Homo sapiens: one gene and its partners. The protein of the gene in region 2 interacts with the protein of the main gene of each other region in a biochemical or structural test. Each region holds a gene or a part of one and is shown on either strand. Other genes may lie near its edges.

Region 1 (3,527 bases), on a different chromosome or scaffold from region 2:
GTCATGTAACATGAATGGTATGTGGTCAAGCAGGTGTGTAACTTACCGGGTACTATAGTATCCAGTGAAATACAAGTCAATTCTTAAATTCTCCTGCAATTTATAATGCTAACATTTACAAATGACATACTCAAAATTTCATAGGAGGACACTAATCTGTGGCACAGTCCAATCAGGCTAATGCATTTGGAAAATGCATTTTTTATATATATGTAGATAGATTACATATACATGTCTATACGTGTGTATATATATTTTTCTATATATATTTAAAAGACTAGTGTAGTTTAAAAATTTACTTATAAATTTACTTATAAGATGAATCGTAGGGAGTTAGGAAAGATTGCTTTCATATGCTTTAATTCTCAGATTGAAGATACTCTGATATTTAAATAAACATACTTTGCATTGTCAGAAAGATAACTTTTCCCAGAGAGGATTTGACTTTAATAGTCTAGATTAGCTGCCTAAGTCAACAGTCACTGAAATAACATTGTTTTCTTATCTTTATCTACACTTGTGGCCTATCATCAGTGACCTTTGTCACTTCTCTTGCTGTCCCTCCCTCTGTATTTCACCTCTATGGATGACTGCCAGTTCCTAATCTTTTTCCTAGCCCCATCTTCCATTAGGACTGGTTTTTATCCAAAATGTACCGACTTGAAATGGAAACTTTTTTTGATAGCTTTCTCTTTGACTTTTAGTTTCAGCTCCTGCTCACTCAGGCCTGCTATGTAACCTGTACTTATTTACCCTTACTGTGTTTTCCCTTCTCGGCTAAAAGGAACCAAGTTACTTTCTCTGTGGTCACTGAGTGGTGAGGTTATTTTGGGCCATGAGGGCTGGGGGCAGGGTTAGGCTGGGGAGGTAGCTGAAATAAGTTTCATGGCTGAAGCTCATCTTTGGTTTTCAAGTCTCATAGGCCTTGCAATCTAATTCTCATTAGGAATAGAATTAATTTGTGTACCTAACATGTCATCTGGTTGTTTACTATTTGAAACAACTGAAACACATCAGTGCTTCTGGAGGGATAGTATTTCGTTCTACTCTTGGTTCCACATTTTACAAATTACATTCCCTGCATTTTTAATTAAGTAAAAGGGCTGAGAAAGGTCACTTTTCTTCCTTTATATTTAAAAAACAAACCAACTCTAAGTCTGTTAAGTTTCAGATACAAAAATCATCCTGAAATTACCATGACATAACTAAAAACAATTCTGCCAGAATTAAGGACAGAGAGGAAAACCTATAACTATCAGGAAGAACAAATGTTTATCTGAAACAACAGGTAACCTTGGGAAGGTATCAACTATGAATTTTAGAACCAAAGAACTTTGGATATAAGGAGGAAGTGTGTGCATGGCTAATAGACAAGGCAGAGAAAAGCAGTTATTAATCCAGAGTAGCAAGTCTACCCAATCAGTGAGCAAACTGAGAGGTCCACCAGACATTAATTTTAATGAGGTTACTCAAGATTTCCCCTTTCTTCAAGCATTCCAGGAATCAGATGGAGGAAGATAGGGTAACATCATCTTTATCAAATATTTGCAAACATTATATAGATAGCTGGAAAAGCCTGTGCATGGTGAATGGAAGAGATGTCACATAAAACCGAATAACTGAGTCTCATAATATTTAGGTCTTGAATGAAGTTAGGCCTTGATCTGCTTCCAGCCAGTTGATCTCTTAATTATGTAGGCTGTGCAACAAGTTTTTGGTTCTGTTTTATAGTTTTCTTCTCTGCATTCCTCTAGATTTAATATATTCTTGATTTGTTTTACAGATCACTGCTTTTCCTCCAGAATAAGCCAATGTGGATAAGGGAGACCAAAGGAAATTAATTATATACCAATAAGAAAAGTCTTACGTAAACCCTGTGTGTAATAAATGTTCAAATAAGTTGGTTGTAAGGTTTTGGTGTACAATTTCAAGATATTTTCACAGAACATATTGCTCCCCAGTCAGGGTTAAAGTGAAACGTTCCATGGGGATAATGCAGAGGATGATATTCTTTCAGGAAAAAGAGTATTAAGCTTTCCTCTACTAGGCATCTTCCCTCAGGCACTGAGATTGCAGCCATCCAACAAATGGGGAAGGGCAGAAAGAGGAGCCTTCAAAAGTCGCAAATATACTTCAATAGCTACTTTTTAGCAAGTGTGGTAATGAGATCTTTCCATTCTCCCCTCTTCTTTGTGATGTATGCAGGGGTGAGTAGCTGCAGCAGTGATTCTGTCTGTTGCCTAAAGAAGTTCTGACACAAGGCCTCAGTGTTACATATCACGTACATCCCACAGTCATAGCTGTTTTGTTGGGCAGGGGCTTTCTCTTCCACAAAGGCCAGTTTGTCTCCTTTTCTGCCTAAGAAAGCCTCCAGTTTCTCTGCTACCTGCTTTGCGTGAACTGAGTTGCTCCTGCTATGGGAATCATAATGAAAAAAGCTATTTTTATCTTGGAGGTAGACCAATAAACTCCAGTGGGTTCCTCCAGCTGCCTGGTTGGAGTTATCATTGATGGCTAAAAATACAACTCTCTTGTTGGGGAGGTCCAGTGGTTCAAGGAACATGGCAATCTCTGCTGGGTTGCTAGTGCACTTGATGAACTGGGTGACTTCAGGGCTGATGAAACTGACGTGATCAGAGCAGTCATGAAACTGACTGTTGGCAAAGTACTCAAACGCAAACCCAATAATATGGTCATTGAGCCAGCTTGGCGGATCCAATAGTGAGACATCTGATTGCCGCAGTAGACTGTCCATGTAACTCAAGACTACGGGGTCCATCTTGTACTGACGAGGGCTGCTCAGAAATTCCAGAAGCTGAACAAGAGCTAGAAGACAATATTATTGTCAATAAATACCTGACTGTAAAATGCGGCTGGAAAATAGTAGTTACTTTTATAGGGTTGTGGTAAAAAAATACACAGTTGACCCTTGGACAAGGTGGGTTTGATCTGTGCAGATCTACTTACACATGGATTTTCTTTTGCCTCTGCCACCCCTGAGACAGCAAGACCAATTGCTCCTTTTCCTCCTCCTCTTCAGCCTACTCAACATGATGATGAGGATGAAGACCTTTATGACGATCCATTTCCACTTAATGAATAGTAAATATATTTTCTTTTATGATTTTCTTAATATTTTCCCCTAGCTTACTTTTTCGTAAGAATGCAGTTTATAATACATTAAAAAACATGTGTTAACTGGCTATGTTATTGGTAAGGCTATGTTATTGGTAAGGTAACGTGTTAATTGGCTATGTTATTGGTAAGGTTATTTGTAAATGTATATAATACATTTACAAAACGTGTTAATTGGCTATGTTATTGGTAAGGTATATATTATGCAGTATATAATACATTTACAAAACATGTATTAATTGGCTATGTTATTGTTAATTGGCTATGTTATTGGTAGTAAAGTTTTTTTTTTTTTTTTTTTTTGAGATGGAGTCACACTCTGTCGCCCAGATTGGAGTGCAGTGGCACGATCTCAGCTCACTGCAACCTCTGCCTCCTGGGTTGAAGCGATT
Region 2 (3,527 bases):
AGTGCCAACACCATTTGATGGGGGAAAAATCATGTCTTCAACAAATGGTATTGGTACAACTGGATATCCACAGCAGAAGAATCACACTGGACCCCTACCTCACACAATACACAAAAATTCCTCAAAATGGATCAACAACCTAAATAAATAACTAAAACTATAAAATTCTTAGAACACAGAGATAAGTCTTCATGACCTTGGATTTGTCAATGGATTCTCAGCTATGACACCAAAAGCACAAGCAACAAAAGAAAAAAATAATAACACTTTTGAGCCAGGCATGGTGGTGTGTACCTGTAGTCCCAGCTACTTGGGACACTGAAGTGGGCTGATGTACTTTTCTGCATCAAAGGGCATTATCAAGAAAGTGAAAAGACAACCGGTATACAAATTCAAGAAATAAACACATACATCAAGAAATCCAACAAGAAATATACAGTGCTGGCCGGGCACGGTGGCTCATGCCTGTAATCCGAGCACTCCGGGAGGCCAATGTGGATCACCTAAGGTCAGGAGTTCAAGACCAGCCTGGCCAACATGGTGAAACCATCTCCACTAAAAATACAAATATTAGCCAGGTGTGTTGGCACGCGCCTGTAATCCCAGCTTCCTGGGAGGCTGAAGCAAGAGAATCACTTGAACCCAGGAGGCAGAGGTTGCAGTGAGCCGAGATCAGACCACTGCACTCCAGCCTAGGTGACAGAGCCAGACTCTGTCTTGGGGAAAAAAAAAGAAAAAAGAAATACACAGTGTACAAATTATCAAGAAAGTGAAAAGACAATGGGAGAAAATACTTTTAAATCATTTATCTGGTAAGAGTCTAGCATCTGGATGATATAAAAAACTCTCTTTGAACTCCCTTTAAGTCAACAACCAAAAAACGAGACAACCCAATTCAAAAATGGACAAAGAACTTAAAAAGATATTTCTCCAAAGAAGATATATAAATAGTCAATAAGTTTATGAAGACACTTAACATTAGCCATAACATTAACATGGCCAAATCAAAATCATGATGAGATGCCACTTCACACCCATTAGGATGACTGTTATCTAACAAAAACAAAAAATAACAAGTGTTTGATGAGAAAAGAGAAAAACTAGAACCCTTGTGTATTGCTGGTGGGAATATAAAACTTCCCCAGCAACCTTGGAAAACAGTCTGGCAGTTCCTCAAGAAGTTAAACATAGAATTACCATATGAGTCAACAATTCCTTCTAGGTATATACCCAAAAGAAGGGAAAACAGGTACTCAAATACAAGTATATGAAAATTCATAACAGAACTATTCATAATAACCAAAAGGTGTAAATAACTCAAATGTCCGTCAATGGAAGAATGGACAGGCAAAACATATCTATACATACAGTGGAATATTACTCAGTGATTAAAATGAAAAACTCATACATGCTACAACTTGAACAAATCTCAAAAACATTACAATAAACGACAGATGCCACACATAATAGGTCACATATTGCATGATCCATTTACATGAAATCTCTCTAATACGTAAATCTAGAGACAGAAAGTAGATTGGTATTGCCAGGGGTGGAGGGCATGGGGGAATAGGGAGTGACTGCTTAATGGTTACAAAGTTTTCTTTCAGGGTAATGAAAATGTTTTAGAACTAGACGGAATTGGTGATTGCACAATATTGTGAATATATTAAATGTCACTGAACTTGTACACTTGAACTTTTTTTTTTTGGAGACAGAGTTTTACTCTTGTCACTCAGGCTAGAGTGCAGTGGCATGATCTCCGCTCACTGCAACCGCTGCCTCCCGGGTTCAAGTGATTCTCCTGCCTCAGCCTCCCAAGTAGCTGGAATTACAGGTGCTCACCACCACATCTGGCTAATTTTTATATTTTTTAGTAGAGACGGGGCTTCACCATGTTGGCCAGGCTGGTCTTGAATTCCTGACCTCAGTGAGCCACCTCACCCAGCCCCACTTTAAAATAATTTTATGTTATATAAATTTTGCCTCAATTGAAAAAAAAAAAATCACCTGGGTGCAGTGGCACACACCTGTAGTTCCAGCTCTGCAGCAGGCTGAGGCAGAATGATCACTTGTGCCCAGGATTTTCAAACAGTAGTACACCACGATCATGCCTGTGAATAGCCACTGCACTCCAGCCTGAGCAACATAGCTAGACCCCAACTCTATGAAAAAACAAATGAATAAGGAAACCTGTATACACATCCCCACACAAAAGGAAAGAAGGAAGGGGGGAGGGAGGGAGGGAGGAAGGGAGGGAGGAAGAAAGGGAGGAAGGGAGGGAGGGAGGGGACACAAGAAAGTACTAACTTGGGCAAGAAGATTGAAAAAGAAAATGTTGTTTAGAAAATCTTCTTAGGGTTAAAGTGCCTACCAGCCATCATGTAGCATGCAGCTGGTACTTACTGAGGCAGATCTTTAGTTTGGTTTTGTGTGTCTGATATTTTGACCCCTGTTTTACGTAGAAAGCCTAGACGCTGGAAATAGTGCCATGCAGCCCAGACTCCAGCACACATCAGCCTCCTGGCAAATCTCAATCTTCCTCAGCATCAGTTTCCAGAATGGAAAATGAAGTACACCAAAAGCTTTGACAGCCCTGTATGACTATCAAAGGAAGTACTGCAAATAAATTGTTAGCAAAATGAAGAAATGCAATAGAAATGAAAAATACTGGGACTTGCCTGTTCAACTAAACTCCTCTAGAGTTTACAGTAAAAATACTGATATCCTGTGTTATAGTTTTGGTTTTATCACTTACTTGCTGTGTCACTTTGCAAATTCTACTTCCTGCTCATACTAAATTTTATTTCATAGAGTGCCTATGAGGGTTCAATGAAAAGTTATTAAAATTATTAAAGTGCTACATAGTCAAGTGGTAAGTCAGAAACTTTGGTTTTAGAAAGGCTTGTACTAAAGTCGGAGAAATGTTATGCTTCAAGTCAGAATGGCTTGAAGTCACAGCTCTGCTACTTATAATTCAATCATGGTCATAAGCTGCATTTCTCATCTGTAAGATAGAAGCAAACAGACTTCAGTTTAAAATCTCATACGAATAAAGAAAAAAAGAGATAGGTACCATGGTTCACGCCTGTAATCCCAAAACTTTGGGAGGCTCAGGCGGGAGGATCACTGGAGCGCGGGAGTTCAAAACCAGCCTGGGCAACATAAAGAGACCCCCCATCTCTACAAAAACTAAAAATATTAGCTAGGCATGGTGGCACATGTCTGTAGTTCCAGCTACTCTGTAGGCTGAGGTAGGAGAATTGCTTGGGCCCAGGAGGTTGAGGCTGCAGTGAGCCATGATAGAGCCACTGCACTACTCCAGCCTAGGTGACAGAGTAAGACCATGTCTCAAAAAAAAAAAAAAAAGACAAAAGAAAGAAAAGGAATAAATAAAATAAATCTCATATGAGGCCCTTATAAGGCATACTAACATCTGAGGTCAGGCACGGTGGCTCATGCCTGTAATCCCAGCACTTTTGGAGGCTGAGGCAGGATGACTTGGTTCATAAGTTTGAGACCAGCCT
Region 3 (2,977 bases), on a different chromosome or scaffold from region 2:
AAATGATGTTTTAGAAACTTCCTATGGAAAAAGAGATAGAGAAAATGAAATGCTGGCAAGTTGCAAATTCCAGTCTCAGGACCACAAAGTCACCTGAAACCTCACTCTACCCTCGGCAGTCCAAAACACATCCCTGTAGTCATCTGGTTTTGGAGGGTTCCACATTTGGTTACCCTCCAATCTGTCCAGTTAAAATTCCAACCTGAATTTTGCTCATCCTTGTAGTTACTGCCAAGAGTAGCTGGATCTGTGAATAACAGTACCCAAAGTATATAAAGGACTTTTTCTTGGTTTGTTTGGAGACGGAGTTTCGCTCTTGTCGCCTGGGCTGGAGTGCAATGGCATGATCTCGGCTCACTGCAACCTCTGCCTCCCAGGTTCAAGTGATTCTCCTGCCTCAGCCTCCTGACCAGCTGGGATTACAGGCGTCCGCCACCACGCCTGGCTAATTTTTGTATTTTTAGTAGAGACAGAGTTTCACCGTGTTGGTCAGGCTGGTCTCGAACTCCTGACCTCAGGTGATCCACCCGCCTTGGCCTCCCAAAGTGCTGAGATTACAGGCGTGAGCAATCGCCTCTAAAGAACTTTTACAAATGTTCTTTGGTCCTGGGGAAATTCAGTGCTCCCTGGCCTGCATGTTTGTCTTCCTTTCTATGAACTGGCAACTACACTGTCTCAGTTGTCTTAAATAGAGAGAACGTTACAATGCCAGCCCCACCAGACTAGAAGGCTGGTATCCCAGGCTGGGCATCTTCCCTACCAAAAGGACTTAAAAGTACTGATGCGCCATTGAAGATTAAGGTCAGGTCCGAGACACTATGATTCTAAGGCAGGGAGAGAATCCAAGGGCACAGGAATTTCATTTCCTTTGTCAAATAACCAGAGATGAGCTCAGTGTCCCCAACCTAAGAAATGAAGCAGCCTAGCAACTTAGTCACAAAAGGTGCCGATTACCTGAGCTCGCTCTCGCCTCCAATCCACTCGGGCATCTTGAGTTTGGAGTCGAGGTTGTAGTAGGCCCCTCCCACCTCTCGAACACAGATCCAGTGCTGCCTTTTGAGGGGCAGTTTCAGTGGACCCCAGCATAGGCTGGAGGGCAGATTCATGATGAAGCCCATGACGTTAGTGAGGGCAATGACACCGACATCCCTGCAGGGGAGAAATGGTGGCAGGCTCTGATGCAGCCCATTTTCCAAGGTTCCCTGGCTGTAATACCACAACTGGCTACCTCCCCACTCATGCCATGAGCCCAAGTACTAAAAGCTTATACCACAACCGTGCTGTTCTCCATCAAGTCAAGCCTGATTCAGATTACCTGCGCTTGTCCCACCAAACAGCTTCATAGCCTTTGGTCTGAAGTGCTGCCATAATGACATTCACATCGTAGTTGCCATTTCCCAGCATGCTCTTCTTGTGAGGTGTCACCATGGTGTTTGGAGACAACCTACCAATGTGAAAAGAGGAGGGCTGAGACTTGCTGGATGCCTGAACCCCCTGACCCCGCACTACCAGGGATGGAGAGCACTTTACATCACTGCCCCTGGAAGTTAGTTTCCCCACATTCAAGTGCAATTTCCCCAGCTTCTACCTAAGTATTTTGTAAGTGTTCCATGAAGGTGACTCACTTATGAAATCCCAGCCTCCTGCAGCCTTTCTGCTCTTCCTCCTGATACTGATTTTCCTGCCTCATGCAAGCCTTTTTTTTTTTTAACATTGGAAAATAGGATTCAATCTTTTCATTTGCATGGATAGTAACTGGTGTCACTCCTGCTTTCTAGTTAAGGCCTGCAAACTTGGTAATCATTAATCATTAAATACTCAAAGGCATACAGGAGCCTAGACAGGTGACATAAATGTATAAACTGGGGTTGGATATAAGGCAATAAAAAGTAGTGAGGCCTACTGGAATGCACGACCCACCTAAAGGCATTCTGTGTGTGTGTGTGTGTGTGTGTGTGTGTGTGTGTAGTACTTGAATAAATTTTTCTTAAAATACCCAATAAATCAACTGAAAAAAAATTTGTGCCAGGCAAACAAAACTCAGCTGCAGCACTGGTTTGCCCACCCAGCTTGAAGCCATTTACTTCCAGGTTTCTTTAGCCAGTCTGTATTTTAAGACAAGGTCCATGCTGAAGGCATTTCTAATTCTATTATTTTACCTTCATAAACTTGTCAGGCCAGGAGCTGGGGAAAGGCCATTTTGAAGGAAGGGTTCAAGGGGCATACCTTTGGGCTTCGTGTGAAGGGGAGAAAGGGAAGTGTGGCGAGTTCCTCAGGACATAAAGTGCATGATCAAGAGGCTACTACATGCCATCTCCAGAAAAGAATCAAGACGTTAGGCCAAGGATGTCAACTCTAAAAAACTTAAGAAATCTTGTATTTTTAAAATTTTTCTGTGCACAGCAGAAATACTGGTATTTTTTTTCTTTCTTTTTTTTTTGAGTCGGAGTCTTGCTCTGTCGCCCAGGCTGGAGTGTGATGGCGCGATCTCAGCCCACTGCAACCTCCGTCTCCTGCGTTCAAGTGATTCTCTTGCCTTAGCCTCCCAAGTAGCTGGGATTACAGGCACCCGCCACCACGCCCACCTAATTTTTGTATTTTTAGTTGAGATGGGGTTTCACTACGTTGGCCAGGCTGGTTGGTCTCGAACTCCTAACCTTGTGATCCACCCGCCTCAGCCTCCCAAAGTGCTGGGATTACAGGTGTGAGCCACTGAACTCAGCAATACTGGTATTTTTCAAATATAAAACATACTCCTGGCCAGGCGCGGTGGCTCATGCTTGTAATTCCGGCACTCTGGGAGGCTGAGGTGGGCAGATCACTTGAGGTCAGGAGTTCAAGACCAGCCTGGGTAACATGGTGAAACCCCGTCTCTACTAAAAATACAAAAATTAGCCAGGCGTGGTGGTGCACGCCTGTAGTCTCAACTACTCAGGAGACTGAGGCAGCTAACTGCTTGAACGTAGGAGGCAGAGGC
Region 4 (3,527 bases), on a different chromosome or scaffold from region 2:
CGAACTCCTGACCTCAAATGATCCGCCCGCCACGGCCTCCCAAAGTGCTGGGATTACAGGTGTGACCCACTGCGTCCAGCCTATGTTACAGCTAGTTCATTTTATAAATTATTCTATTCCTTCAAAATAAGGACAGCTATTAATGAAAGATTTCTTGAAAGTGCAAGACCTGCAGGTTTCAGAACTTAAAGTCATTCATGATCCTAACTGGCCCCCTCCTATTTCTACCCTCGTCTTGTCATTTGAAAGACAAGCCAGTGCTTCACTTTCATTGGATTTTTTCCCCCTGGTATTTTCATTTTTAATAATGGGAAGGCATAAACTAACACAGTAACAGTTTTAAAGTACTCATCATTTAAACCTTTATAAGGCTAGTAATGTAAAAGGTAAAGAAAAATGTATATGGGTTGTAATAAGGGTAGTTTTTTCTATTCACTGTTACTTGACTTTTATAGGGCAAAAATCATAGTAGAGACTATGTCATTGATTTTCAGCATGAAAGATATCAAAATTAAAATGGGAAAATGATACATTTAACATTGGTAAACAGGAATTTATCAAAAGACAAAGAAAAATTGCAGAAAAGTATATCAGTTAAACCATAATACTCAAATTGGAGTGGAAAAGATTATAATCCGACAGATATTTATCAAAAACTAACTTATAGTATTTAAAATGTGAAATTTGACTTCAGGGCAGGGCAACATATTTTAAACACAGGAAATCAGAACACAACACTTGAGCGAAACACTTAAGTTACCCTTAAGTAATCTTACAGGTGACTAATTTCACAGGCTCAGATTTAAAACTACGGTGCTTTAAATCTGAGTCTGTGAAATTAGTCACCCTTAAGATTACTGGCTAAAGATTTAATCTTCTCTCAAAAAGAAAATAAACAAGCTACCTGATTACAACAGTCTTAGAAAATAAAAATGAAATTTTCATTTATAGTATGAAACCTGTTACATCAATTCATTAAATATGATGTTCGACTCAACTTTTCCGTTGTTTAAATAGTGCTAAAATAATAGTATAGCCCAACCAGGGAAATCGTAAATATTTAAGATTACAATGTCAGTGGAAAACATTTTTCGCATGAATTAAAAGAAAAGCATTCATTTGAAAATATTCCCAAGTAAGAAGCCAAAATAATTCCATTAGAATTTTAAAAGGCCAGAAAGAGCAACCCAAAAATCCAGTGTGAAAGAAAACAATACCTATATAAACGTTAAGCAAAGCCAGGAATGTAGATTACTTTGAAACATCTACTTATTTCCATTTTAATGAAGAATTAAAGGATACAATGTGTTAAAGACATATTTAAAATACTAGCAAGGGATTAGACAGACGAATCAAATTTTGTTGATATCCCAAATAATTACAAGAGACTTCGAAAATGTAGTGTAATTCAGGTTTTCTTTCCAGTTTAAAAATTTCTATCCATTGCCTCTATCTTTGGTGTCACTGCCACCAATAAACACAGTATACAGCTTAGAAACCTAATTACTATCTTCAACTAGGAAAAGGTAAACCAACATCATTTCTTTAAAATGAGAAATAAAGAATGTGATCGTACTTAATTTTGTCTCATGGTCCCACAATACTCTGAAATGTCATGCCAAAATGTAAAAGTTCAAAAGGGAACATTATCATTTGCTATAATTGCACCAAAAATTTAGCTACTGTACGCTGGTGTGATGACAGCCAGTAGTATGCAGAGGCTACAGAAAGACATGTAGATATATATATATACACACACATATATATATATATCTCTTTAGCTCACAATTAGTAAAAGGTTCAGTTTAATGTGAAACTGAAACACACGACAACATAATGCGCCTTCATGTAAATACGCTAACAACTTTGTTTTCTTGAAGTTTAAAAGGATAGTATAATTACCTTAAATTTACACAAAACATTAAGAAACATGGTAGTTGTTTATGATTAAAATAAAATAGCAACGTAAATTAATTTAACACAGTGTTAAATATATTCACACGATCACCACTGTGATTCAAAATGGCCACTAATGCAGTTACATATCAATATATGTACATAACATTTGTCACAACAGTTTTTGTAAGTTTGACTTTCTGCAGACCAGGTTTACGAGACAAATAGCCTTGTATCAATTCTTTCATATTATGAAAGGAATTAAATGTTGTAAGTAGTTTCATTCCTCTGCAGGGGCGGGGGGGGAAGAACCTCTAAAAAGTCAGTGTAAATTGAGGAGAGTTCTACCTTCTTGAATATTTGAACCTGTTGACCTGGAGAGATTCCTATAAGCTGAGGATAAACACATCTTAAGATAGTAATGAATCTCATAACATTGTCAGTGGCATTTAGCAGGTATCTGCCACCAAGAGGAACACCGGGTCCTATAGCAGAGCCTTCTGAGAATATGGTTGCTGTGGCTGAGGTGGCTGTTGGCTGCCTCCGGGCTGAGGCAGAGTTGATGATGTTAAGTTATAGTTTGGCACCTGGGGCATATTAGGTCCTGCATTCTGGTACAGAGTGACATCGGCAGTTGCAGCAGCAGCAGTAGCGGCAGGAGGAGGACTATATACTGGCGCCTGGCTGGGATATGTGTTTCCTTGAACGGAACTGACCATTGTACTGTGGAGGAAGAAAAACACTCAATTACATCAATACTGATTTATAGAGCAACTACAGATAAATGGAAAAGCTATTTACTAAGCATTCATTCATATAGTCAATTCATTTAATAACCTTTTACTAAACAGCTATAATGTGCCAAACATTGTTATTTTAGGCTTTGTGATATCAGGCATTGCATTAAAAATATGTGTGTTATTTAACCATTGTGTAAAAAAAGTTGGGGGGGGTGGTTTGCGGAAATAAGTCTATACCACCATGGAGCGTCTGTTCTAGTGGTAGAAAAGGGTAACAAACACATGTATCGTGTGTCAAGTGGTTCTAACTGGTAAGAACAAAAACAAAGCCCAATACGGAGGACAAAGAGCAGCTGGGGCAAGGGATTCTAGTTTATGGTAGGGTGCCTCTCCAATAAGGCAATACTTAAGCAAAGATGTGGAAAAAGTAAGCGAGTGAGCCAGATAGATTCCCTAGGAAAGTACATTTCAGGTAAACAGAAAGAAGCCTTTGAGGAGAGAAAACACCAAGCATGTTCAAGGAACAGCAGGCCACGAGTGCTGCGGCAGAGGGGGCCGCAGGGGGTGCCGAGGGGAGAGCAGCTAAGATCACCGGCAGGACTGCGGTGGTGGGGAGGGGGCTGGAGAACACACAGCACCTGATGGCCACAATAAGGACTGTAGCTTACACTCTGAGTGAGACAGAAAGACACTGGCTCGTTCTGAGCAGAAGCGTGATAAGATTCCACAGGGTTTAACGGGCTCCCTCTGGACCAGGATAGCTGACTGCAGGTTATTACGATCCACCAGGAGAGAGCCGACCAGCAGAAGAGCCACGGCAGTAATGGTGGAGATGGGAGAAAGGGTCAGAGTCTAGATAGATTTTGAAGATAATGCCTTCAAAATATGATA
Region 5 (3,045 bases), on a different chromosome or scaffold from region 2:
AAGTGACTGGACTGGACTCTTTTGTAGGCCTGGTAAGTCACTTGGGTTAAGACAGCTAACCTTGAGCTTTTCCTCCCCCGCAGAGAGGCACTGCCCCTGGTAAAGAGACACCAGAGGCCCCATTTTTCTACAATGGAATGTCAGCATAGGCAGGGACCTCCTCCAGTTGAAGAAACAAGTCCAGAGAGGGCAGGTGACCCACCCAGGGCCTCACTGCGAACTGGGGTGCGGAGTCGGGGGCCCAGTTAGAAAGCATTTGTCCCTCCATTAAAATAAATACTAAAAATCCTACCAAGTTACCATAGTCCATAGTGGATAGGCCTCGTTCCCAGGGGCTTTGCCCAAAAGGCTGCACATTTTCTTGCTACAGTCTAAATTGCTTAAAAAATTGAAGAGCCGGAATGTTCCATTCAGAATGCAGTCCCATTAGGTGACAGGTTCCACTGCATGGCCTAAAATTAATCAATGTTTATCGGCTGCATAAAGGATGTTGTAGTGGGATGTTTTATAGAGCAGGTAAACGGAAGGGGTGGCGGCCTCAGGGAACACGTGGTGGTTCAGGGCGGTATCCATCTCGTCCACGTACTCCACTTGCAGGGCAATGCTCAGGGCCTGCGACAACGCCGTGATCTGGATGTGGTCACACTCCGTGGCCATGGGCTCTACTTCCTGCAGGGGCCAAAATGAAAACAAGCCAGCTTAGGAGGGAGGCCTGGCAGAGGACAAGTGAGTTCAGCTCTGGCTCTCAGGGTCATGGTCACAGCCTCTGTGCTGGGACGTCATCTTCACAACATCCCATGAGTTGGGTATGGACGTTCTCATGCCACACGGGAAACAGCCTCATTGAGAGGCAGCATAGCTAGAAATCGCTACAATTGCAAGAATCGAACCTGAATCTTTTCCATTCTAGACCTTGTAGTTACACCTGACAGCAGGCTACTAATTTAGAGGGATCTGGAAACGGGGGGCAGACATTTTTCAGGTTGGGCATCAAAGAATCTTAGAGATAAAAGGCACCCTGTCATCCAGGGGTGCCTTTCAAGCTTAAGTGTTTACAGAGGCTAGGCTGGTGAGTGAGGGTGCGAGTCCGGGTGCTGCAGAGACGATGGAAGAAGCAGAGGCGGTGGCAAGCAGGCGTATGTCCTACATAGAGAGGGCAGCTGCTGCTTAGTGCCTGCTGAGACTGCCCTGCAAGAGCAAGGACCTGGGGGCTGTACTTCTTACTTTCCAGCAGAAATCCAAATATTCATATGAAAAGTGCCTAATTTTTAAATATCGGCAACTCTTTCTGGTAAATACCATGCATCATAAACACGTCAAGCAAATGTGACTCTTGGACTATGACTGTGGTTTTGTAAACAGGCCAGTCCAAATCCCTTATTTTTCAGATGGGAAATCTCCAGAGAGGGGAAGTGACTTGCCTCAGGCCACACAGCTCAGGCAGCTCAGGTGGGACCTGTCTGCAGCTTGCTGACCTAGCTCTGTTTGAATTGCAAGGGCAGTCGTGACACCCGAGTCCCTTGGCTACGGATGGGTGCTGAAGTCTGCAGGACAGGGCCACAGGAGCAGAGCCCAGGGCTGGGGCTGAGACCCCAAGCACCTACGTGAGTGCAGAAGTCTTTGATGTCCATCTCCTCATCAATGAAGTGCCGGAAGAAGTCTGCTCGGTTCCTGATGAAGGCCGACGTGAGCAGGCGCAGGAACTGCACGATGTGGTCCGAGGCACTCTGGTCGTTGAACACCTTCAGCAGGCTGGACACTGAGCCATCCTTCTCTACCAGTTCCACCACACTGTAAAACTGCGCCCGCCCGGCCCTCAGCTAGGGAGGCCAAGCAAGCCCCAGCCCTCCCTCTGCATTCTCCCTCCGCTCCCTCCCTTCGCGTGAAGCCCTCACGTGCATTTTCATTTGTAGATTCTCAGGTTGAGTTAGAAAATCAGTCTGAGATTCTGCCTAAGCTAAGTAACCCAGGGTTAGCAAGACTTTGCAGTTTGTACACTAGTCCAGAGGCATGTTTGGGAGCGGCAGTTGGGTCTCCCCACCATGACTACCTGGGTTTGGATTCTCACGTGCACACTCAGAGTGGCAAGCGTCTGAGAGTCCTCGATCCCGCCCCTTCACTAATTGGATAGGGAGGCATGAGGTGGAGATGGAATAGGGTGAGGGAATAGGGTGAGGGCTCCCTGTGCCCACACACCCCCACAAGCAGGAAGGAACCCTCTGTCCTTCCCCAGCCAGGAGGAGCAGAGCTGTGGGCTGTGTAGGGGCTCCAGCCAGTGCCCACTCCTGTCTGCTCTGCCAGTGTGGAAGGAGGGACCAGGTGAACTCACAGCATTGAAGAAGTTTCTGAACTTGTGCTCCTCAAAGCCAGCAGCCAGAAGGTCATTTGGGGTCTGCAGTACGCGTTCTTTGAACCTACAGAGGGGGAAGACTGAGTGTTTACAGGGAAACACAGCGAGAGTGCTGTGATTGGCAACTGTGCGTCCCCCTCTCAACCCACTGCGCCCACCAACCTCATCTCTAGTCCAGCCGCAGAACCTCCCGCCCCTGCCCCCAACACACAGCCACATGCACCGTGCACATCTCCACCCTGGCCCTGCCGGGCCCTGGTGGCTGAGCTGCATTGTGTGTGTGTGCATGGTGGAAAGACGATACGACAAGGGCGTGTGTGATTTTGCATCTTTTCCAACTCCCTACTCAGTGACCTCATGAGGGCAGCTTGACTCAGTCATGATAATATTGAATACTGACACCACAGCAATCGGCTGACAACACACATCAGGCCTCCCGCACGCCCACAGCCGGCTGTTAAGCATCTGCCAGCACCAAGTTACCCTTGGGGACCCACTCCACAGGCCCTTGCTCTGCGCATGCTGGGTTGTTACTCTCTGCACCTACTGCAGGCCCCCTCATGGCGCAGCCCCTTTCTGGGACCTGTCCTGGTGCCCTCAGGGGGTATGGCAAGAAACCCAGGCCTGGGCCTGGCCCTGGCTCCAGGACACTCCCAAGTTTAGTGGCAGCAACGAGGTATGGAGGAAGGGCTGCC

The links.
Region 1: of the proteins of USP28 (region 2) and SENP8, one has a biochemical effect on the other in vitro, tested with the Homo sapiens proteins (one large-scale study listed by BioGRID).
Region 3: of the proteins of USP28 (region 2) and JOSD1, one has a biochemical effect on the other in vitro, tested with the Homo sapiens proteins (one large-scale study listed by BioGRID).
Region 4: of the proteins of USP28 (region 2) and STAM, one has a biochemical effect on the other in vitro, tested with the Homo sapiens proteins (one large-scale study listed by BioGRID).
Region 5: of the proteins of USP28 (region 2) and OTUB2, one has a biochemical effect on the other in vitro, tested with the Homo sapiens proteins (one large-scale study listed by BioGRID).

Annotation. Positions count from the first base shown.
Region 1 is NC_000015.10:72,138,876-72,142,402, reverse strand, and holds part of SENP8 (sentrin-specific protease 8), read right to left. Parts: intron 3,092-3,527; exon of another isoform or gene 2,968-3,091; intron 2,827-2,967; 5' UTR 2,780-2,826; coding exon 2,141-2,779; 3' UTR 1-2,140. UniProt on the Homo sapiens protein: Protease that catalyzes two essential functions in the NEDD8 pathway: processing of full-length NEDD8 to its mature form and deconjugation of NEDD8 from targeted proteins such as cullins or p53.
Region 2 is NC_000011.10:113,865,573-113,869,099, forward strand, and holds part of USP28 (ubiquitin carboxyl-terminal hydrolase 28), read right to left. Parts: intron 1-3,527. UniProt on the Homo sapiens protein: Deubiquitinase involved in DNA damage response checkpoint and MYC proto-oncogene stability. Involved in DNA damage induced apoptosis by specifically deubiquitinating proteins of the DNA damage pathway such as CLSPN.
Region 3 is NC_000022.11:38,687,981-38,690,957, forward strand, and holds part of JOSD1 (josephin-1), read right to left. Parts: intron 1,445-2,977; coding exon 1,316-1,444; intron 1,150-1,315; coding exon 955-1,149; intron 22-954; coding exon 1-21.
Region 4 is NC_000010.11:17,713,635-17,717,161, reverse strand, and holds the end of STAM (signal transducing adapter molecule 1), read right to left. Parts: exon of another isoform or gene 2,620-3,527; coding exon 2,382-2,619; 3' UTR 338-2,381; downstream 1-337. UniProt on the Homo sapiens protein: Involved in intracellular signal transduction mediated by cytokines and growth factors. Upon IL-2 and GM-CSL stimulation, it plays a role in signaling leading to DNA synthesis and MYC induction. May also play a role in T-cell development.
Region 5 is NC_000014.9:94,043,340-94,046,384, reverse strand, and holds part of OTUB2 (ubiquitin thioesterase OTUB2), read right to left. Parts: intron 2,415-3,045; coding exon 2,330-2,414; intron 1,800-2,329; coding exon 1,605-1,799; intron 670-1,604; coding exon 463-669; 3' UTR 1-462. UniProt on the Homo sapiens protein: Hydrolase that can remove conjugated ubiquitin from proteins in vitro and may therefore play an important regulatory role at the level of protein turnover by preventing degradation.